Regions from separate parts of the Homo sapiens genome. Here all the other regions are linked to region 3. The links come from fine-mapping of genetic effects on gene expression. A gene starts in region 3. Each other region holds a variant in brackets. All regions are shown on one strand. Distances are from middle to middle.

Evidence for each region. PIP is the estimated chance that this variant, and not a neighbour inherited with it, causes the effect.
Region 1: its variant is fine-mapped to the expression of PTGS1 in whole blood (INTERVAL, PIP above 0.99).
Region 2: its variant is fine-mapped to the expression of PTGS1 in whole blood (TOPMed, PIP 0.98).

What each region holds. Positions count from the first base shown.
Region 1 is chr9:122,424,261-122,432,447 of GRCh38, reverse strand. No RefSeq gene overlaps it. Among named protein-coding and RNA genes, the nearest start is that of OR1J1, 50 kb to the left of the region's middle. The variant C/T (reference allele first, on the strand shown) is at 5,137.
Region 2 is chr9:122,398,767-122,406,910 of GRCh38, reverse strand. It overlaps LOC124902264 (a long non-coding RNA gene), which reads left to right and starts at 3,616. Exons shown (of 2, transcript XR_007061758.1): 1 at 3,616-3,727; 2 at 5,678-5,941. RefSeq lists an enhancer at 3,718-4,917. The variant G/A (reference allele first, on the strand shown) is at 3,396.
Region 3 is chr9:122,366,164-122,374,350 of GRCh38, reverse strand. It overlaps PTGS1 (prostaglandin-endoperoxide synthase 1), which reads right to left and starts at 3,327. Exons shown (of 11, transcript NM_000962.4): 1 at 3,260-3,327; 2 at 3,079-3,165. The coding sequence starts at 3,266.

The DNA.
Region 1 (8,187 bases), 58 kb before region 3:
TAAAAGGAATTCATCATTTTCTGTATTTTTGTTCATTTACATAGTTTTACATTTACACTCTAAAAGTAAAAAAGTAACCACTGTTAGGGAGGGAGCAATATTCTCTTATGACTTTCTACATCCTAAATGGAAGTAGAAGTCTAAAGTTGTCCTCATTAAAGTATACGTATATTAATATTATATAGTATGTGTGTATATATGTGTGTGTGTATATATATTATAACATATATATCATTAACTTTTATATATGTATATCTTATTTTATATATATATATCTTACTAATTTTATTCCTCAATATTAATCAGGGCTCTCCAAAGAAACAGAATCAATAGGATAAATATAACAGAAGATTCATTATGGGAATTGGCTCATGTGATTATGAGCCCCAGGTCCCTCTATCCGCTGTCTGCAAGCTGGAAAACCAGGGATGCCTGGTGTAATTCAGTCTGTGTCCAAAGGCCTGAAAACGAGGGAGGCCACTAGTGTAAGACCTGCAGTCCCAAGCCCTGAGAACCTGGAGCTCTGATGTCTAAGGGCAGGAGAAGATGGATGTCCCAGCTCTAGAAGAAAGAATGAATTTTCTCTTCTCCGCCTTTTTGTTCTATGCAGACTCCCAACTGATTGGATGATGCCCACCCACATTGGTGAAGGTGGACCTTCTTTACACTCAGTCCACTGATTCAAATGCTAATCTCTTTCAGAAACATCCTTATGGACACACTCAGAAATACTGTTTTAGCAAATACCTGGGTATCCCTTAAACCAGTCAAATTGATACATAAAATTAACCATCACAATTCCTAAGTAGCTTATCTTCTTGTGGTTCTGAATGGGATCATTTTTTCAGCTTAAGTCCACATCCACCATACAACGTGAGGTACTGTTTCAAGCTCCAATATAGTAAGTGGCTTGCAACAGATCAAAACCAAGTTGATCTTGCTTTATAAATCTAGAAGTGAGCCACCTAGGTATTAGCTGAGATCTTGGCCTCTACAAATTTATGTACCAAGTTCATGCCTCAGGCAAGTATTCCCATGTTCAATGTTTCTGTCTAGAAGCATCTGAAAGAATTTACAGCTTGTATGTCACTAAGCTTTTTTCAAAATGGAAATTTATAATAAGCTAAATTTCATGAGTTTCTTTGTGACCACCTCCTGGGTCTTGGTTTTTGTAGTAACCCTCATCAACTCACAAAGATAGTTCTGGGTTTGGTTTTTGTCATAACTCATCAACCTTACACAGGCAGTTTGACAACTTAGCAATCTCTTTTAACAGTCCCTTTAAACCAGATTATGGGGCAGCAGTTGTCTATGTCTGAAGGAGGTGAAGAAAATCTGAGAAAGACCACCTGCCCTCTCCTCCTATACATAGCACACAGGAGCACAGAGCATGCTGAGGTCTTGGGGCAGGACAGGCAAATGGAGAAGGAAACCTTCAGACACAGTAGGACTTCACTGAGTTCTATGCAGCAGCCACCAGAGCTGGGAAAGGAAGTAGGACAGCAAAGAGAGACCTCCACCTGAAGCACAAGCAGAGAGGGAGCTGTAGAACTGAGAAACACGCCACTATCACTCCAGGCCTCCACGGAATACAAGGCAGTTGCTGCCTATGGCTGGAGAAGAGGCTGAAGAGCTGAGAGAGAACCATCCTATTCACCAGGCAAAGGTATACTAGGCTGGCTGAAGGCTAAGGAAAGATCAGGAGAATTAAAAGAAACCCCACATTTATTCATACACAAGCCCTTCTTAAAGGAAAGTTACAATCTTGCCCTCATATCATTTGAAGTCAGTAGTGAACTGTATCTCACTAAAGCCACAACAAAGTCCAGACTACTCAACTCTAAATTAGTTTGACTCAGTTTCCCACACTGATAGCCACAATTAAACTGGATCATGTATTTTGGGGGGCCTAAATATTATTTATATATTCTCTGTTATTTTACACATATGAAAAATGGAGATGTGATCCACCAAGAGAGAAAATAATCAATATAACAAGACTCAAAGAGGACTTTATATGTTAGAATTATTAGAGAGGGACTTTAATATAACTATGATAAAAATATTAAAGGGTGTACTGAAAAAGATAGGCTACATGCTTGAACAGATGGAGAGTTTCAGAAGTGAAATTGAAACTTTTATAGTGTAGATATAATATATATTATATATAGTATATATTTATATACCACAAGTGTATATATTACATGTACTATACTATATATAACATATTTTATTACTGTACTATACTCTCTATATATTTACTATACTATATTTTTATACTATGTAATATCTACAAGCCAAATGGAAATGTTAGAAATAAAAAATACAATATCAGATAGAAAGATTTTTTACTATGTGTTTGTGCATCAAAACATCATGTCATATGCCTTAAATATATATCAAAAAAGAGAATAACTAATTTTGAAACAGAAAAAAAAATTTTTCAATGGGCTCCTCAGCAGATCGAACACAGCAGAAGAAAGAACCAATGAATTTGTAGCCATGTCAACAGAAATTACACAGACTGAAACACAAGATGGGGGAAATAATGCATTTGGTAAATGGAGGACAATAGAAAATGGTATAACATCTAAAATTGAAAGTCAAGAATGAGAAAGGAAAGAAAATGTGGCAGAAGAAATATTTGAAAAGATGATGGTTAAGACTTTTCCCAGAGATCCAAAGAACTCATTGAAACCCAAGGAGGATAAATACAAAGGAAACCATATGTAATGCTCACTACCTGGGTGTAATGCCCATGTAATGAACATGCACATGTACCCCTGTATCTAAAATAAAAGTTGAAGTTAAAAAATAATAAAACTGGCCAGGCACAGTAGCTCATATCTGTAATCCCAGCACTTGGGGAGGCCAAGGCAGGGGGGTCCCTTGAGCTTAGGAGTTCAAGACCAGCCTAGGCAAGATAGGATACCTTGTCTTCACAAAAAAATAAAAACAATAAACAATAATAATAAAATAAAACAACAAAAATGAAAACATATGTAGGCATACCAGTAAAATGTAGCATACGTCGGCATACCAGTAAAACCAAAGGCAAGAAGATATTCTTGAAAACAGCCACAGGAAATAAGGCATATCCTATGCAAGGGAAAAGGGATGAGGAGATAAAAATAATTTCTGAGTTTTTATCAGAAATACTGAAAGTCAGAAGACAATGGAGCATCAACTTTAAAGTGCTTTAAAAATAAGCCAAAAAAAACCCTATCAACCTAGAATCTTATATCTAGCAAAAATATCCTTTAAATCTGAAAGCAAATGAAGAGATGTTTAGACAAAAACTAAGATAATTTGTTCCCACCAGACCCACACTACAGGAAATGCTAAAAGAAGTGTATTAGGCTAAAGGGAAATGACATCAGGTAGAAATATGAATCTACAGGAAGGAAAGAAAGGCACTAGATAAAATAAAATGTAGGTAAATATAAAGGACCTTTTTTAAAAAATTACATTTGTAATTATATAGAAATGAATTGTAAATATGTTTATAATCATATATAACATCTTTAAATCTCTTTAGACAACTGTTGACTATTGAAAGTAAGAAATGATAACAATGGATCATGTGGTTTATGACATCTGTAGAAATAAAACATGATATTAAGAGTACAAAGGCTGGGAAGAGGAATCACAAGTGTACTGTTATGAGGTGCTTACATTATTTGTAATTTGGTAGAACATCTTTTGAAGGTAGACTGTGATAGTTGAAAGTGAAGATTATAATCTCTAGAGTAATCACAAACACAGAGGCATAACTAAAAAGAGATAAAGAGGAGATAAAAGAGAATACTTTAAAAAATAATAATCAATCCACCCAAAGGGAGGCAAGAAAGGAAAAACAGATGAACGAAAAGCATACACAACAAATAGAAAACAAAGGCCAAGGCTGAGTGCGGTGGCTCACGTCTATAATCCTAGCACTTCGGGAGGCCAAGGCAGGCAGATCACCTGAGGTCAGCAGTTTGAGATCAGACTGGCCAACATTGTGAAAGCCCATCTCTACTAAAAATACAAAAATTAGCTGGGTGTAGTGGTGCGCACCTTTAATTCCAACTACTCGCGAGGCTGAGGCAGGAGAATCACTCGAACCCGGGAGACAGAGGCTGCAGCGAGCAGAGATTGCACCACTGCACTCCAGCCTGGGCGACAGAGTGAGGTTCTGAAGAAAGAAAGAAAGGAAAGAAAGAGAGAGAGAGAGAGAGAGAAGGAAGGAAGGAAGGAAGGAAGGAAGGGGGAAGGAAGGAAGGAATAAAGAAGAAAGAAAGAAGAAAGAAAGAAAGAAAAAAAGAAAGAAAGAAAGAAAAAAAGAAAAGAAAAGAAAGGCCAAAATTAAAAAGTAGGTTTAAACTCAAAACTATCACCAATTACATCAAACGCAGATATTCTAACTACCTCCTTCCCAGAGGCTTAAAAAACAAAGATTATCACCATGGTTTTAAAAAGTTCCAACTAAATGCTTTCTACAAGAAATATAAATTAACCTAAAGATAGAGAAGAGTACTGGGAACAGAGCCAATTCTGCAGGGTTGTTTTTTTTTTTTTTTTTCAGTTCATGCATGAAAACTTCATTATGGACAAACACTGATCCACAGACTAACACTTGAGATGCCTTGGTGTAGAATACACTGGAATCTGGGAGTTCATTCAAAAGTTACGTAGTTTAAGGTTAAGATTTTATTTGGGTCCTGGAACACGTTCGGTGGGTGCTGTCTCAGCTCACCTGGAAGCAGATGTCTGATGGCCTTATTTCTAGGCACAAGTCCTCATTAGTCTCCTCAGCTTTATAAAGATAATAATAATATCATTTATTGAACACTTACTATACTCTTGTTATTGTGTTACATACTTTACTTGTGTAAACATATTTAATCCCAACGACAACCCTACAAGACAGATACTGATGTTATTCACATTTTATAGATGAGAACCTGGAGACTTGGTGAAATTTTTAACTTGTTTATTACTGCACAGTTAGTTGAGTTATGGAGTTAGAATCTGAAACATCTGTCTGACTGAAAGCCCTGCACTAAATACTAGTGTGTTGTTTGATTGCCAACTCTAAATAGGATTCACCTCTACTTGATTGATAATAGACACCAGCCGCAGCTTAGGTATCAA[C/T]GAGGGACTATTAGTTGGTGGTCACTGATACTCAGTGTTTACCAAAAGTTTAACTAAAAGAAAATATATTTAGGGAAGCTTGCTCAAAGGACATGCAGGTCATCCATACCTACCTGCAAGACTAAAATCCAATATGTTGTCCACCCAAACCACTGGAAATCTGAGCACCTAGACAGCATTCTTTTTGCCTCTGAGCTATTGTTTACTGTGAATTTTTACACCCCAATTTGATTGCCAAAGCCTACATTAAGACGGATTAAAAGAAACCCCATGCAATGTGTCTGTTCTTAGAACCGCAGATGATATAATTTCACCTAATCAAGTGGTTTATTTTTACTTTTGGTCCCAGTGAACTGTGTGACTGACCAGAAAGCCTGAGCCAAATCTGAGGCCCACCCATAACAACAGTCATCATAATCTGCATTTTCAGAGTCATTCCTGGCTCAATTTTATGTCTCCACCCTTGTTTATCCCCCCTTTTGTTCTTTTTCTAACCTCATTTTCCATTTATCTTATCTTGTATTTTATACGTATTTCCAAGCTTCCTTAAATTCTTCAGGAATAAGACTTGGCATAAATATAAATAAATTTGAGGAAATCTACCAAAATGTAGAAACAGTGGTTACCTCTGGATAGCAAAAGTATAGATTTTTTTAAATCTGCATCTTCATAAAGGATCTCATGCCCTGACCATAAACATTCTTTCTTTTATAAGTATGAAGACATATTTCTAATTACAGATAAACTGTAAAATTCTAATTTTTTGTTATGAATATTGGTAAAAATGTAGTCCATTAATAGAGACTGAAGGTAAAGACGGTGATATTCATCAGGAGAGAGACTATATAGTTGATTTGATGTATCAAATTGGCTGAGCCATGGTAACAAGGTGTTTGGTCAAACATTATTCTATGTGTTTCTGTGAAAGTGTTTTTTTGGCAATTCCTGACCTACTGGTTCAATGAAATCTCAATCAAAATTCTATTGGGCTCTTTTGTAAGTTGAAAATTTTAAAATAAAATTTATATGGAAATGGCAAAAAACCTAGAAGAACCTAAATAACTTTGGGGGAGGAAAGAAGACCCACACCATGCAATTCAAGACTTACTAAGCTATAATAATCAAGACAGTGTACTTTTGGTTTTAAAGCTCAATCAAACAAGAGTTCAGAAATAGATCTACAGTTATATGGTCAATTGATTTTTGACAAAAATTCCAATGCAATAGAGAAAGGACAGTTTTTCAACAACTGATGCTGGAACAATTGGATATCCATATAAAAAAATCAATCCTTAACTCACACCATATATATAAATTAATTCAAAATGGATCATGGACTTAAATGTAAGAGCTAAAACTGTAAAACTTATAGAAGAAAACAAAAGAAAAGCTTTGTAACCTTGGATTAGGCAAATAATTTTCACATAAGAAACAAAAAGCAAAAACCATAATAGAAAAAAACTGCTAAATTCAGCATCATCAAAATTTTAAACTTCTGCTGTTTGAAAGATACTGTTAAGAGAATGTAAAGACAAGCCACAGGCTGGGAGAAAATGTTTGCAAAACACATACCTAATAAAGACTTTATCTAGAAAAAAGAACTCTCACAATCAATTATAAGACAAATAGCTCAAATAGTGGGCAAAGGATCTGAACAGACACTTAATCAAAGAAGATATACAGATGGCAAATAAGCACATGAAAAGATGCTTGACACCACTGGTCATTAGGGAAATGCAAATCAAAACCACAATGAAATACCACTACACATCACTAAAATGGCTAATACCAAGCTCTGGTGAGAGAAGCACCTGGAAATTGTATCCATTGCAAAATGGAGCAGCCCTTTTTGAAAACAGTTTAGCAGTTTCTTTAAAAGTTTAACACATACCTACCATACAACCCAGCAATCCTATCCCTAGGTATTTACCCAAAAGACAAGGAACCATATGTTCACACAAAGAACTGTATGCCAATGTTTAGAGCAGCTTTATTCACAGTAGCCAAACAGTGGAGACAGTCCACCAATGATGAATGGATAACCAAATTGTGGTACATCCATATGCAGCAATAAAAATGAACGAATTACTTATATGTGCAACAACTTGGAAGAATCTCAAAAAAAGTATGCAAAATCAAAGAAGCTGGACCAAAAAAAGGCTACATCTTATATCATTCTAATTGTATGACATTCAGGAAAAGGAAGCAGGAAATCAGATCACCGTTTGCCTGGGGCTAGGAGTGGCAGAAGGATAGTGACTACCAATGGGTAGGAGAGAACTTTTGTGGCAATAAGAATATTGTGTATCTTCATTGTAGTTGTTACATAACGGCATACTGTTGTCAAAACTCATCAAATGGAATACTTCCTATGAATAAATGCTATTGTTCATAAATTATGCTTTAGAAAACTTAATTTTAGAAAAAACACTTTGTAGAAAATAAAAGTTATATTTTAGAACTTAGGCTATGGAAAGATTTTCTAAATAAGATCAAAATGTAGCAAAAACAAAATATTGATAAAGTTGGCTCACATTAAAGCCAAAATCTTTGCAATAATCTGACTACAAGACTATGTGAACTGGTCCTGTGGCCATTCTGACCTCAGCTCCTGCCCCTCTTTATTCATTCAGCCCAGTCCAGCCATACTGGTCTGTTATTCCTTAAATACATCAGGTGCACTACTACCTCAGTGCTCTCACCAATCTCATTCTATAATGTTATGCCTCCTTCAACACAGAGGATATCACTGAGGTTGACTATGGCCATGCAAGACCCATCTCCCCCAACTTGGTCCCTCAATTCTAGGTGTCATTCCCAATCAGACCCAGGTAGGTCCTACTTTTTGGACTTGGAAGGGGGGCAGACGAGCCTGAGAGAGAAGTGCCTGTTTCTCCAGTATTCTGAATTGGTGACAGCCAAAGGCCGTGTTTCCAATGAAGATACTGATCCATGGAGAGACTACGCTTAATTTTTAATTACTGCTCCCTTAGAAGAAGACAAACTTTTAACCACATATGCCACTTAATTAAACCACAGAGATCTTCTCTG
Region 2 (8,144 bases), 33 kb before region 3:
CTGGGCATCAGAATGAGACCCTGTCTCTTTAAAAAATTAATTAAAGAATATATATAGTATGATGCCATTCGTATGAAGTTCAAGAACAGGCTAAACTATCTACAGTGCTAGAAGTCAGACTAGCAGTTACCTCTTTAGGTTAAAAAAAGTTCAAGGTAGGCCAGGTACTGTGGCTTACACCTGTAATCGTGGTGAGAGGTGACAGCGTGCTGGCAGTTCTCGCAGCTCTCGCTCGCTCCCGGCGCCTCGTCTGCCTGAGTTCCCACTTTCGCGGGACTTGAGGAGCCCTTCAGCCCGCCGCTGCACTGTGGGAGCCCCTTCCTGGGCTGGCCGAGGCCGGAGCCGGCTCCCTCAGCTTGCGGGGAGGTGTGGAGGGAGAGGCGCAGGCGGGAACCGGGGCTGCGCACGGCGCTTGCGAGCAGGCGCCAGTTCCGGGTGGGCGGGCGCTCGGCGGGCCCCACACTCGGAGCGGCCAGCCGGCTCCACTGGCCCCCCGGCAGTGAGGGGCTTAGCACCTGGTCTAGCAGCTGCTGTGCTCGACTTCTCGCCGGGCCTTAGCTGCCTCCCCCCGGGGCAGGGTTCGGGCCCTGCAGCCCGCCATGCCTGAGCCGCCCCGCGCCGTGGGCTCCTGCGCCGCCCCAGCCTCCCCGTCGAGCGCCACCCCCTGCTCTACGGCGCCCAGTCCCATCGACCACCCAAGGGCTGAGGAGTGCAGGCGCACGGCGCGGGACTGGCAGGCAGCTCCACCTGCGGCCCCGCTGCGGGATCCACTGGATGAAGCCAGCTGGGCTCCTGCGTCTCGTGGGGACTTGGAGAACCTTTATGTCTAGCTAAGGGATTGTAAATACACCAATCAGTACCCTGTGTCTAGCTCAGGGTTTGTGAATGCACCAATCGACACTCGTATCTAGCTACTCTGGTGGGGAGTTGGAGAACCTCTATGTCTAGCTAAGGGATTATAAATACACTAATGGGCACTCTGTATCTAGCTCAAGGTTTGTAAACACACCAATCAGCACCCTGTGTCTAGCTCAGGGTTTGTGAATGCACCAATAGACACTCAGTATCTGGCTACTCTGGTGGGGACTTGGAGAACCCTTGTGTCCAGCTCAGGGATTGTAAACGCACCAATCAGCACCCTGTCAAAACGGACCAATCAGTGCTCTGTAAAACAGACCAATCAGCTCTGTAAAATGGACCAATCAGGAGGATGTGGGTGGGGCCAGATAAGAGACTAAAAGCAGGCCGCCTGCACCCCGGTGGCAACCTGCTAAGGTCTTGTTCCAACCCGTGGGTGCTTTGTTCTTTTGCTCTTTGCAGTAGATCTTGCTGCTGCTCACTGTTTGGGTCCACATTGCCTTTATGAGCTGTAACACTCACCTTGAAGATCTACAGCTTCACTCCTGAAGCCAGCGAGACCACGAACCCACCGGGAGGAACTAACAACTCCAGATGCACCGCCTTAAGAGCTGTAACCCTCACCGCGAAGGTCCACAGCTTCACTCCTGAGCCAGTGAGACCACGAACCCACCAGAAGGAACAAACTCTGAACACATTCGAACATCAGAAGGAACAAACTCTGGACATGCTGCCTTTAAGAACTGTAACACTCACCTTGAGGGTCCACGGCTTCATTCTTGAAGTCAGTGAGACCAAGAACCCACCAATTCCGGACACAGTGGCACTTTGGGAAACAGAGGCAGGAGGATTTCTTGAGCTCAGGAGTTCAAGACCAGCCTGGGCAACAGAGGGAGGCCCCATCTCTACAAAAAATAAAAATAGGCCAGGTACAGTTGCTCACACTTGTAATCCCAGCACTTTGGGAGGCCAAGGTGGGCAGATCACAAGGTCAGGAAATTGAGACCATCCTGGCCAACATGGTGAAACCCCATCTCTACTAAAAATGCAAAAATTAGCTGGGTGTGGTGGCGCGCACCTGTAGTCCCAGCTACTCAGTAGGCTGAGGCAGGAAAATCGCTTGAATCTGAGAGGCTGAGGTTGCAGTGAGGCAAGATTGCCCCACTGGACTCCAGCCTGGTGACAGAGCAAGACTCTGTCTTAAAAAAATAAATTAATTAAATTAATAAAAAATAAATTAGCCAGGTGTGGTTTTGCATACCTGTGGTCCCAGCTACTCAGGAGGCTGAGGTAGAAGGATTGCTTGAGGCTCAGAGGTCAAGGCTGTAGAGAGTTGCGATCACACACCTCTGCACTCCAGCTGGAATGACAGAGCAAGACCCTGTCTCAAAAAAAAAAAAGTTCAAGCTGTAAACTTGAGATGTGTGCATTTTAATGTAAGCAAAGTATGTCTCAATTTGCATTGTAAATTTATTTTTAAGCCACCTCACTATTAAGCCTTTGATGATTTTTCTGTCACTACTCTTCTACTAGCAAGGTTATGCCCACAGGTACCCCTGTGCTTTACCAATTTTTACACTGCTCAAAGTCCATCAATGGTGAGATTCCCTGCGTCCTCCCTAAACTGCTAACAATTAGTGTCCAGACCAGCTGCCATTTTGAATGGCAGCTACAAGTTCAGCTATATTTGTGAAGCACGATAAGTAAAAATAATCTACTGGAACACTTTGTTGGGGAACTTATGTTCCATATTTTTCCAAATCAGCAGAGACTCCACCTCTGAGCTCTTGTCTGGCTGAGTGATAAAGGCAATCAGATTCAGACCAATGACCAGAATGACCAGCTACTCAACAACAGTGATCATGCAGAGAGGCTCACAAAGCAAGGTTGTTTAAGAAACCCACACAATGCACAATGCTTGGTGGTCACTGACCTTTTCAAAGGTTTATGGAATTATTTGAGACTTGGAAGAAATAATTGTACTGTCCCAAAAACTTACAAAATGAAAGTTATAAATGTTTAATTAAATGTCTACAAAATGTATTATGTTAGTCAACTAAAACCTACCTCAACATATATATGTAAATTATACTAAATGTGCCATATGGCCACATTTTAACATGTTTGGTGTGAGGTAGGACGAGGCATCCAACACAGATTTGTCTTAATTGCATGAAGATCAGGAAAACGTGGCCTTGCTTGCATGTCATATGGTAGCTTTTCTGTTAAGTCTAATAAGCTCCTCCTTTTTTTGTGGACAGAGGTTGCAATTGCTTCCTTCGTTTCTGGAACCATAAGGGAAGTCAGCCTACATGGTCCTAGCAACCAAAAGCCCAAACTCTTGAAGAAAGAATCTTAGACAACAAGGCAGGAGAAACAGCCATCTGGTACCAGTTAGAACCTTTCCTTTCGTGAGACCCCCTCAGCCTGTGACACATTTGGAGTCACTTTATTTCTTACTCTGCTTGCCCTGTGTGCCATCCCAAGATGTCAACTAATAGTTTCTGGGGTCACAGATCCCAGAAAATTCCTGGAAC[G/A]TAAGTCATTTGAATGTGTGCTCACTGCGTTTTTTTGTTTGTTTTTTGTTACCACTGACCTTCAGGATGGAGTGGAAAGAATATTCTTTTGGAATGGAAAATATATGTGCTTAGGAGTTACCCAGACCTGCATCATTCATGTTTTGGTCATCATTTAGCAGTGGTTGGAAACAGCGCTGGGCTGGAGTGGGGGGTGGTTTTGTCCAGGTTCTACCACTTACGGGCTTTGTGACCTCACATAAATCTTTTCTCTCTGAGCCTCAATTATCTCATCTGTGAAATGGAAGGAAGAACCCCAGTTTCACAGAGCTGCTGGCATGAGAATTAATAAGGTATGCATATCATGATATTAGCACAATGCCTGGCATGTAGTGAATGCTGTTAACACTGTCAGACAGAAAGAAAGTTAATGGTTGCCAGGGGCTGGAGATGGAGAGTGACTGCTGAAAATGGTTATGGGGTTTCCTTTGGAATGATGAAAATGTTCTAGAACTAGGTATTGGTGATGGTTGCGCCACATTGTGAATATACTAAATGCCATTCAATTGCACGCTGTAAGGTGTTTAAAATGATCAACTTTACATTACATGTATTTTACCACAATGAAAGAAAAATAACTGGTAGACCGTCTTTTCTACCCCATAGGGTGAGTGTGGAGGAGGAGGAAATTAGGATCTGGCCTGAATCCCTCCCATAAGGGCAGGAACTGAGAATCAAGACAAGAGCAGATCCTTGAGCATCAGCCTGGTGAAGGAGGCAGAGCTTGGGTTGGGGCCTCACTGAGTGTGGCTCACTTGGTGAGGGAAGGGGTAAGGGCAAGTGGGCAGCAGGCAGGGAGAGAGATGGCACTGCTTTGAGATTTCAGATAACCAGTTATATGCAGTGAACGTCACTGAGGATGCAGAGTGTGAGTCATAGATTAGAAAGGAGACAGCAAGCGTGGAAAAAGTGAGTCATGGGGAGAGGAAAGAAAACGTCACTCATCTAAAGAGGAAAAGAATGACCAAAGGCAGCATGATACAGTGCAGAGGGCTCCCTCTGAGGCTTATGGATAGAATCATCTGGAAGTGCATCAATATCACCAATGCCTACCACCCTCCACTCCCCCATCCCTACTGTGATTCTGGTTCTAGATGATTTGGACAGGGCACATGGTGGGAAAAGGCCACGCTTTGGAATTTCATGTGACCTCCTACCACTTTGTAGCTGTATGACTCCAGACAGGTCACCTAATTTTTCTGTGTCTCAATTTCATCCTTTGTGAAACAGGAAAACCTACCTACAAAATTGTTAGGAGGAGTTAATACAATAGGCAGGTAAAATACATGCCCCAGAGTAGATGTCTGATAAATATATGCTCCCTTTCTCCTTCTCTAATGGTACGTGTACCCTCGTGAATCCACTTTCTCTTTCCATCAGTCCATGAAGCAAGAGAAGACACAAAGGGGAATTTTGAATAGAGAACTGGAACCATTTCCCATAATAAGTGTATGTAAAGATGATGTTTTAATTACAGCCCTCATTATAAGAGTTAAAATCGGCCTGGCGTGGTGGCTCATGTCTGTAATCCCAGCACTCTGGGAGGCCGAGGTGGGCGGATCACGAGGTCAGGAGATCGAGACCATCCTGGCTAACACGGTGAAACCCCGTCTCTACTAAAAATACAAAAAAATTAGCCAGGTGTGGTGGTGGGCACCTGTAGTCCCAGTTACTCGGGAGGCCGAGGCAGGAGAATGGCGTGAACCCGGAAGGTGGAGCTTGCAGTGAGCCAAGATCGCACCGCTGCACTCCAGCCTGGGCGACAGAGTGAGACTCCATCTCAAAAAAAAAAAAAAGAGTTAAAATCTACCATAGAGGGTAGTTTTATTCATAATAGTAAAAAAAATGGAAACAACCCAAATGTCCATCAACAGAAGACTAGATAAATCAACTGTGATATACGTTAATTACACAGCAATAAAAAGATCAAACTGCTGATATACACAGCAACATGGATGTCAACAAACGTTATGTTGAGCAAAAGAAGCCAAACACACAAAAAAGTACATACTTTATGACGCTATTCAAATGAAGTTCGTGAGTAGACAAAATTAATCAAAAGTGATAAAAGTGAAAATAGTGGTTACCTTTCAGTGGTTTTTGACTGGGAAGGAGCACAAAAGAGCCTTCTAGAGTGCTGGGAATGTTCTATATCTTGATTTCTATGGCGGTTTATACATGTGTAAAAATATGTCGAATTATGCACTTAAGATTAATGCTCTTTGCTGTATGTTATACTCCAGTTGAAGGCAGGAGGGAGACCGACCTGCCACAGAAACCTGCAAGGGTGTACTGCCACATCGTTCTGAAACCCAAGCTGCAATTGTACAAATGGCTCAAAATCCCTTTTGACTAAAGGATAAAGATTGAAAGCAAAAGACGTATTTTGACCAAGTGTGGAGGGAAACCAACTTTGAATGAAACACGAATAACAGATAAGATAGTGAAGAAAGTGCTTCACTGTGATTCTCTTAATAGTACTCAATAAAAGTATCTTTTAAGTTTTAGTATTTCTTTCTGTCATTCACACATAGCTGTTTTAATTTAGAGTCCATTTTTATAGGAAAAGCATGATAAAGTTGAAAAGTGGGTTGTAGGCGTGTCTAACATATTTTTGTGTGAGACATATTTTGTGTGTGGATACATAGCAGGTGTGTATATTTATGGGTTACATGAGATGTTTTGATACAGGCATGCAATGCATAATAATCATGTCAGGGCAAATGAGGTGTCTCTTCACTTTGTTGATTGTTTCCTTTGCTGTGCAGAAGCTTTTTAACTTGATGTGATCCCATTTATCCATTTTTGCTTTGGTTGCCTGTGCTTGTGAGGTATTACTCAAGAAATCTTTGCCCACTTCAATGTCCTAGAGAGTTTCCACAGAGTTTTTGCATAGTGGTTTTGTAGTTTGAGGTCTTAGATTTAAGCTTTTAATTCAAAATTTGATTTTATTTTTGTATATGGCAAGAGATAGGAGTCTAGTTTCATTCTTCTGCATATGGATATTCAGTTTTCCCAGCATCATTTATTGAAGATTAACTATCCTTTTCCCAATGTATGTTCTTAACAACTTTATCAAAAATGAGTTCCTGTAGGTGTATAGATCTATTTCTGGGTTCAGTAGTCTGTTTCATTAGTCTATGTGTCTGTTTTTATGCCAGTATAATGCTATTTTGGTTACTATATCTCTGTAGTATAATTTTAAGTCAGGTAATGCGATTCCTCCAGTTTTGTTCTTTTTGCTTAGGATAGCTTTGGCTATTCTGGGTCTTTCGTGGTTCTCTATAAATTCTAGGATTGTTTTTTCTGTTTATATGGAGAATGTCATTGGTATTTTGATAAGGATTGTATTGAATCTATAGACTGCTTTGGGTTGTATGGACATTTTAACAATGTTGATTCTTCCAATCTATGAATATGGAATATTTTTCTGTTTTTCGTGTGTCCTCTCCAATTTCTTTCATAGTGTTTTATTTTCCATTGTCAAGATCTTTCACTTCTTTGATTAATTTCCAGGTACTTAATTTTATTTGTAGCTATCGTAAATGGGATTACTATTTTCAGAATTTTCACTGTTTTCACATAGAAATGTTACTAATTCTTTCTTCTCTTTGATCAATTCTGCTATTAAGAGACTCTGATGCATTCTTTAGTAGTCAGTTGCATTTTTCAGCTTCAGAATTTCGGCTTGATTCTTTTTAATTATTTCAATATCTTGGTTAAATTGATCTGATAGGATTCTGAATTCCTTCTCTGTATTATCTTGTATTTCACTGAGTTTCCTCAAAATAGCTATTTCAAATTCTCTGTCTGAAAAGCCTAGAGGTGTAGATATATGACCTCTCTCTGAGAGATAGAGAAAGATCACATATTTCTATCTCTCTAGGATAAATCCCTGATGACTTATTTAGTTTGTTTAGTAAGGTCATGTTTTCTTGAGTGGTATTGATGCTTGTGGATGTTCACTGGTGTCTGGACATTGAAAAGTTAGATATTTGTGGTAGTCTTTGCAGTCTGGGCTTCTTGGGAAAGCCTTCTTGGGAAGGCTTTCCAGGTATTCGAAGGGACTTGGGTGTTGTCATCTAAGTTTTTGGTCACCATAGTCATATCAGCATTAGGAGGCACCCCAAGCCCAGTAATGCTGTGGCTCTTGCAGACTTGTAGAGGTACCACTTGATGGTCTTGGATAAGATCTGGAAGAATTGTCTGGATTACCAGGCAGATATTCTTGTTCTCTTCCCTTACTTTCTCCCAAACAGACAGAGTCTCTCTGTCTCTGTGCTGAGCTGCCTACAACTGGGGGAGGGGTGGCACAAGCACCCCTGTGGCCACCACCACTGGGACTGCACTAGGTCAGACCTGAAGCCAGCACAGCACTGTTTCTTACCCAAGGCCCATTATAACCACTACCTGGCTACCACCACCTTTGTTTACTCAAGGCTTTAGGGCTTTGCAGTTAGCAGGCAGTAAGTCAGCCAAGCTTGTGTCCTTCCCTTCAGGGCAGCGAGTTCCCCCAAGCAGGTCCGTAGATGCTGTTTGGGGACCAGAGCCTGGAGTTGAAAATCTTAAGAATCTGCCTTGTGTTCTATTCTACTGCAGCTGAGCTGCAGACAAAGCTACAAGTCAAGTCTTTCCCACTCATCCCTCCCCTTCCCACAGGCAGAGGAGTCTCTCCCCATGGCCAGCACCACCACAGGCCCATGGGGAGTA
Region 3 (8,187 bases):
AAGGAGGCCTTCCTTTCGACGTCCAGGCCCTCTACTCTGGGTAGAGCCAATCTGTCCCTCTCCATTATTTGTATCAATACAACCCTCCCACAACTGCCCCATCAGCAGAGAACCTTCCCATTTGCTCTCACTGAGTCCCCAAGACACGCGGAGGCAGAGATGATCAGCACACCACGCTGCATGCCAGACACACGCAGCCCAAAGGCCAAGCTGCTAGTCCCCATCCCCACAGATGAGGACTGTCCAGAACTGCCTGGTTCCAGGACCTTTCCAAGGGTTTGGGCAAGGAACACCCCCTAGCCCAAAAGTCAGGGCTCCAGGTCCAGGACTGAGCGTGACTAGGGGACAGGCACAGCCAGGGAACACCAAGTCCTCCAGGATGCAGAGGTGTCAGGCTGCAAGATTGCCCAGTGAAGAGGCAGGACCCAAATCCCCTAAAGAGTAATATTTAGAGAGTCTCTGGGGACCTGGCAGCCAGAGAGAAAAAAAAAAAAGGTGGGGAACCCTGACTGGTTTGGCCTGGGCCCCAGTCCCCACACCTAAGCACCACCACACCAGATCCAGACAACTGGGCCCAGCAGCTGGAAGAGCCTGCTGGTGGGGAAGCCCTCTCCCGGCCCACAGACCCAACTGGTGCTGGCGAGAGCAGGTGCAGGCACCCGGGCAGCCTTGGCACAGCTGGCATCTTGCCCCATGTGCCCGGGTCAGCTGGCCTGGGGCTCCTCTGCCTGGCATGCAGCTCTGGTTGCCAGGTCATGCCCTATCCCCATCTAGAAGATGGGCACTGAGTCAAGTCCAGAGACTAGAGGGGAAGTACTTGAGCATTCAGGGCGCCCCCGGCACAGCCTTGCCTCCAGGCTGGCCTCCATCTCCTCACCCACCAGAGAGGCAAAAGCAGCATTCTCTCCCTCCGCCTGCCCTCTTAGGTGAGTGCAGCCCTCATCTCTTCATCTCCTTTGCCTCTAGAGGTAAAAGACAGGCTTTGGCTTCCTGGGGCAGATGCCCAAGTAGCTTGGCCCTCAGTTTACTCGCAGACTTGGAAATATGAGGGCAACCCAGACCTTCTGCCCCTGCACTCCACCAGTCATTCGTTCTTTCCTAGATCCTTGCAGGAGCCTCGGTACCAGTTTTCTGGCCTCCAGTCTCATCCCCACATTACGCATCCAACCTCAGCCTCCTGCTCCACATTACCCTTACGGTGTTTCCTGGTCGAGTCTCTTAGTGTTTCCCCCACCCGCCACCTCCTTCGAGGTCCAGTCCAAAAGTCATCAGATCCAAGAAGCCTCCCTCAATTCTTCGCACTGAGAGGCAGCTGCTCCCTCCCCTGAGCTCCGCACACCCCTGCTCCCTTCCCTGGGCTCCCTATACCCCTGCTTCCTCCCATGAGCTCCGCACAGCCCTGGTCCCCTTGGATGACAGTCTGTTGGCATTTCTGGCTCCACCATCAGCCTGTCAGCTCCTCCCAGCTCCGTGTCTCCAGGCCCCAGCCAAAGACTGGCATAAATAACCCTTGGGGATAAAAAAAAACAATTCCGTGTAAACATTTATTATACAAAAGGAAACAGAAAAGGCAAAAAACAAAATAGCACAGACCATGGCTCATTGTGCATTAGTGAATGGACTAAAAAAGAATACAGACGGGTGGGACCTGTATACCAAGAGTGCCTGGATGAGGCCAGATGGGGCCTCAGAGGAAGTGCTGGGCTGATCCAGGGACTGACAAGATGGGTCAGCGAGGCAACCTGAAGAGCCCCTTCTACTCCCCACCACCAGCTCACTGTGAGGATTCAGACAAGTGGCTTCACTCCCTCTGGGCCTCAGAGTCCCCTTCTGTAGACTGGGTCTAACGCATCTCTCTGGCAGGGCTGTTGAGAGCACCAAAGAGGTGGATGTCCACAACCAACCTTTGTAAACTTTAAAGTGCTGGCCACATGAGTCTTCCTCCTCCTCTTCCCATAAACCAGACTTTTATTCAACGCAATCCCTTTCCTAGAGCACCCTCCGTCCTCTCTTTGGGTCCCCTAAATGCCACCCACCCAAAGCCCGTTTCAGGAAACTTGGTCTGATCCAAAATCCATGTACATATCTTTCCTCTTTCCCCCACGCACCAGATCCTTAGAGCATCACAGCAGAAAGTGCGGACTCCCTCTGCTCCCTCCTGCCCTCTCTGGGCCTCATTTTAGAGATTTTACACAGCTAGGTGGTGGAGGAAACTATATCCAACTGGGACACATGCTCACACACACGCACACACACAAGCAGCGAGCTGGGGGAGGAAGGTTGGCTGAGCGAGGAGCTGAATTCCTTCACCTGGAACCTGGCACATGCATGGGGGAGGGAAGGGCGGAATTTCCCCATCAACCTCCCCCATGAAACCCAGAGTGGCTCCGGGTCCATTGTGGGTAGAAGCAGCTTTCTGTGGAAAGACCTTGCGAAGTGTGTGGACGCAGACAGACCTGAGTTCAGATCCTGGGCCCACCATGTATTTTGTGAGCTTGGGGAATCATGGCACCTACTGAGCCTCGGTTTCCTCATTTGCTCAATGGGGATCTCTTAAACCCCAGATGAAGCATCCCGGCTCCTAAATGTATTTCCATCTCCCATGTTCTCCCGAAGTCTTCACCAGGGGAGACCTTCTCCACTGGCAATGGGAATCAGGATGGGTTCCCAGACGGTTAGAGGCTGGAGAAAGGGAACTCATTTCCCTTGGTGCCTGCGGCTTCCTCCCAAAGAGGCCCCTATAGGAAACAGCGGGGTTGTTGGGTGCAGAGGCTGCTTAGACATCTGGGGCCCAGAACAGGTGAGGGGGATGGATAGGGACTGTCCCTTCTCCCCAAGTTGGCACCAGATCCCAGTCTGCTGTTTCCCCTGAAAGAACTAGATAGCCCATTAGCCAAGGCCACACCGCCGGGGGGGCTTCAGGGAGCCCCCATCCCACCAAAAGACTCAGCCTCAGTCTTTCTCAGCACCGCGAGCAGAAAGGGGAAGCTGGGCCCGCTGGAGGGGAAAGGAGGGGGTTGAAACCAGGCCAGGGGCGCAAGACCGGGGATTCCCTTGGGGAGGGATGGGGCCGCCTACCTGGCGTGGGCGCCCCTGGGTCCGCGAGCAGGACGGGGAGCGGCGGGAGCAGGAGCAGGAACAGCAAGAACCAGAGCAAGAGACTCCCTGCAGAGGAGAGAGATGAGGGGCTGAGCCTGGCATTCAAGGCTCCACCAGGAGGCCAAGAAAATTCCCCACCGGGCACCGGGGTCGCACTCACGGCTCATGGCGCGGCTGCTGGGGTGCGGGACGCAGAGTGCAGGCTCCTGTGCGTGCGCCTCGCACACTGCCCGGAGCTCCAGCCCATCCCCTCCCCACCCTTCCCCCGGCTCCACCCCCGCTCCTCCCTCCAGCTGTCACCTCGGCTGCCCGCTTACTTCCTCTGCCCAGCCCCGGCCAAGGCATTTTATTAATTAGTGTATGCTCGCCGCTAAAGCGGCTTTTCACCCAAGATCCTTGAAGCACTTACGTTTCTGATGCCTGGTGGCACTAGATATAGACAGGAAACTGAGGCTCAGAGACGATGCTCAATGCTGAGGTCACCCAGGGCTTAGGGACAGAACTGGGGATGGAAGCGGCTCGTCTGAACCACATACCCTGCCCCGCAGAGAAGAAAGGGTCTCAGAGTCCCCTTCTGTAAAATGGGTCTAACGCACTCTACAGAAAAGGGTAGAGAAGAAAAGGGGCTAGAAACAGGGCAGTCTGCAGAGAAGAAAGGGGGCTAGAAATGGGGCAGTCCAGCCTGGCCTGCTGATGGTTTCCTAGATGAGAAACTCACTACTCCTCAGACAGATCTAACAGGAAGGACTTACTTCCCCCATGGGCTGGGCTCCGCCCCCTGAAGCCACAGGTCTCTGCCAGAAATGAAAAGACCGGGCTCCAAACTCCAAGAGAGCCTAGTTCAAATCCAGACTCCACAGCTTACTGGCCGTGTCACCTTGGACAAGGTACTTATCTTTTCTAGCCCTCAGTATTCTCATCTATAAAATCGGCTTAATAGCAAAAACCATCCCAGAGGGTGGTTGTAAGATTCAATGAGGGAATGCACACAAATCTCCTGGTGCAGTGTCCAGCATGTAGTAGGTGCTCAGTTATCGGAAGGCATTTTTTCAAAGATCTCTGAACTCAGATTCCAGGGCTGGCCAGGGTCCATGCTGTAGCTAGACTCACATCCACCGCCGAATTTATAGAATCCCAGCATCCAGCTCTCCTTTTCGCCAGCTCAGGAAGCACCTAGAAGGAGGAAGGAATAGGTCCAAGATCACCCAAAGTCCCATGGTGCTGGCACCCACAAGTCATCTCCCTCAGTTTCCCCAGCACACCCAGCCATCCTGTGGGCCCCACAGTGGGGAAAGCCGGCAGGAGAGCTCAGAGGTTCTTGTGCTGGCTCCTGGGCATCACTGGGTGCAGGGTAGAAATTATGCCAGGTGGGAGAGGTGAAACCTGCTGGGAAGCCCCTCCCCCATTCTCACCCAAGCTGTTCCCATGCTCCCCTGGGACAAAAGCCAGCTGCCCTAGGGAGACAGAGCAAGCCAGGGCAGACCTGGAGAAGGAGTGGGGCATTGGAGGGCCCTGGGGCTCTCAGGGTGCCGGGACCGGCTTCAGCCTTCCCTTCCTCCCCAAATCAAGGGCCCCCTAGCATTTACAGGGCAAGGAGATGGGATTATCAGCAAAAGGGATGGGGACAGGGTGGAGGTGTGGGGGTCCAGTTGTCCAAAGAAAGGGGGAGTTTCTGGTGAGAAGAAAGGAGAGACGGGCTTGAATGAGGTTCCATCTTCCACTCCCAGGCCCTCCCTCCCTTTGGGCCCTGAGCCCATCAAGTCACCACACCTGTGCCTCCTGCTGACTTCCAAGCCACCCATCTGCACTCAAAACAAGAAACACTTGTGTGGCCCTGGCACTGATGGGAAGAGCCTTCACCTCAGAATCAGAAGTGAGTTCAAGTCACTTCTTCCATAGCGTGACCTTAAACAAGCCGCTAGGCCTCACTGGGCCTCTGTTTCCCCATTTGAACAACAGAATGAGCAGATCAGATGGTCTCTGAGGACTGGTCCAGTTCCAGCATGGAGCAATTGAGCCCTCACTGCAGCCAGGCTCTGTGACCAGCACCACAGATCTCAACACAGCTGCAATACAGGAGAGGATGGAGTCTGAGAGAGCAGGCAGGGTGCCGAGGCAGCCCTCCAGGGATGAGGCAGGACCAAGAGCATGGAGTGGGGAGAAGGTAGATGAGAGAAATGGTGGCAGAAGTGCCAGGGCTTGGTGACCGATTAGCACTAGAGCTTAGGGGAAGAAAGGTGCTGAGGACACCTAGCCTTCTGGCTCAATGCTGGTGGTAATATCCAGGGAAGGGGAGCTGGCATGGGTAGGTGGAATTTGAATTTGGGCTTCTTGTATTTGATCCACTTCAAGGAATGAGGAGGATCAAACCTTCCCTGCCTTCTCCAGCTTGGCCCATGGGCCAGCACCCCCAACCGCCCCAGCATGCAGCTGGATACACAGGGGAGAGGTCTGGGGTAGCCCTTGCCCCAGCCCTGGGAAAGAGACCACAGCACAGGGCCACCTTTTCCTGCTCCCTACTGCAAAGCTATAGTCTAAATGCCTAGGACTGGTGTCACCATCCTAGTCCTCAAGATTGTGAGCTTCCACTTATAGGGCAAGTCCACCTCCCATGTCCCCTGGTAGGCCTCCTCTAACATGCCTCCTCCTCCCCCTTCTCTCCTCTAGGAAGCCCCTGTGCCTTCCCTGGCCACAGCAGTGCCACTCCTGATCACATTGTCCCTCTGCCCCCAAACATTATGAGGCTATAAGAGTCCTGGTCACTCTTGTAGCCCCAAGGCCAAGCATAGGATCTGGCGGATAAAAGACATCCAGGGAATGTTTGTTGCTTGAACAAAGAAATGAATGAGTATCTAAAAGAGTAGTGAATGCATTAAAAAAACAGACCAGGTCCAGCACCAGCCTCATCGAAGTGACTGCCAACCACCCATCTGCTGTGACGGCCACCAAAAGTATCACTGCCTGCCTCAGTTTCCCTGCCTTCTCCAGCTTGTCCCATGGGCCAGCACCCCCAGCTGTCCCACAGGCCCAGCTTCACCCCAGGCCCTGAGCCCTTCCCAGCTAAGGCAGCAAGGACCTCCTTCCCTATACCCCACTGGTAACAAGGGATAGGATTTCTCTCTGCATAGCCCCCTCCCCATTATCCACACCAATCACGTGCCCTCCTGCTCACCCTAGCTACAGCCTGGATTGTAATGCTCCTGGAGAGGTCTCACTCCTGCTGGGCCCCACCCACTATTTGGAAAACCAGAGCTGACTCTTACCTGAATCACTCATGGACCCAGCCCCACCCGGCCCCACCTGTGTAGGCAGCTTCTCAGTCAGGCAGGAAGGCTCTGGACTCAATCCAATATCTCTTCAAATCCCAGTCCTCCACCCCACCTGACCTCTCAGTGTGACCTTAAGCAGCAAACTGCCCTTTGTGGACCTCAGTTCCCCCACCTGTAAAAACGTGGTTAATAATGCCACTCTTGCAAGAGTTGTTGTGAGGATGAAGTAAGATAGTCCCTGTGAGCATCCCCAGCATTCAGTAGGAGCTCAATGCTAGTTCTTTATTGGCCCTCGCTTCTACTCCCTACCTGAGCAAGAGGGTTGCATGAAAAATTCCCTTCCTCCTCCTCTTTACCTACTCAGAACCAGGCTAGGGTTGACCATTGGAGGTAATAATAATAATGGCTAATATTTCTTGAATATCTACTATGTGCAGGGTAGAATGCTATGTGTTTTAAATGCACTGTTACATGTGATTTTTCTCAACAACCTTATAAAGTCAGTATCATCACTTCCATTTACAGAGAAAGAAAGTGAGGCCCAGTGTTGAAGCAGCTTGTCCAAGATGCACAACCAGTAAGAGTCAGGTTTCAAGGCCCAACCCTTTTGTTCTGGAATACCGGGTACCTGTACCCAAGCCCCAGCATAACCAACGAGTGTTTGAAGTTAAAAGGAAACAGAAAGGCTCGCTAGGGTGGTAGTCGGCTTGTGGAGCGATGTGTGGGATCCAATTTAAGCAACATAGTTCAGCTGAGAAGCTGAGAACTGAGAGTCACAAAATAATGTTTTGGTTTTGGTTTTGGTTATTTTTTGTCAGGGTCTCACTCTGTTGCCCAGGCTGGACTGCAGTGGTGCGAACTTGGCTCACTTCAGCCTTGATCTCCTGGGCTCAGGTGATCCTCCTACCGCAGCCTCCTGAGTAGCTGGAACTACCGGGTGCATATCACTATGCCCAGCTAATTTTGTTTTATTTGTTTTTTTGTAGAGACGGGGGTCTCACTATGTAGCCCAGGCTGGTCTTGAACTCCTGGGCTCAAGTGATCCTCCCACACTGGCCTCCCAAAGTGCTGGGATTACAGGCATGAGCTACCACACCCGGCCTACCAAATGCGTTTACATCCCTTTCTCATGGAAACCCTCACAATTGCTGGAAGAAGAAGGTATCATGATCCCCATTGTGCAAAGAGGAAAATGAGGCTCAAAGATGTCCGTAGATTATGCAGAGAGGAAGAAAAGTGGGAGGAGTTTTAACCACTTCTGGGGCACTTACCATGTGGCAGACATTATGCTAAAGATTTTTGGTGCATCATCCCCTTTATAACTCCTAACAGCCCCATGAGGTAGATGTTCCTCTTGTCTCCATTTTTATAAACAGGAAAATTAACTGACTTGCTATAGCCTATACCACAGGCTATATATGGGTGGTAGAGCTGGGATTTGAGCCATGGCCTGTATGATTTCAACATTTACAAGTGTAACTCCCTATTACGCTCATCGCTGGTTATCTTGGATCTCAAACCCTGAATCCTTAAACAAACACCCAAATCCTGCCAGGAATGGGCCAAGAAGATAAACAAGCAGGAGACTCTAAGTGGAGAGTCCCCAAGTTCATCTGGGGAGTTTCCACTGCAGGTGCCCTGTCCCGCAGACCTCTCCACTAGACAGCCAGCACCATCTGCTTGGCACAGGATGGCTGAGTGGTCACACCATGGCATCCTCCCCAGCCAGCCCCCACCATCAGTGTAATCCGCAGAGCCTCAGACATCAGCTCCTGGGATCAGGGGACTCAGCCACCTGTGACGGACAAACCAGGGGAAA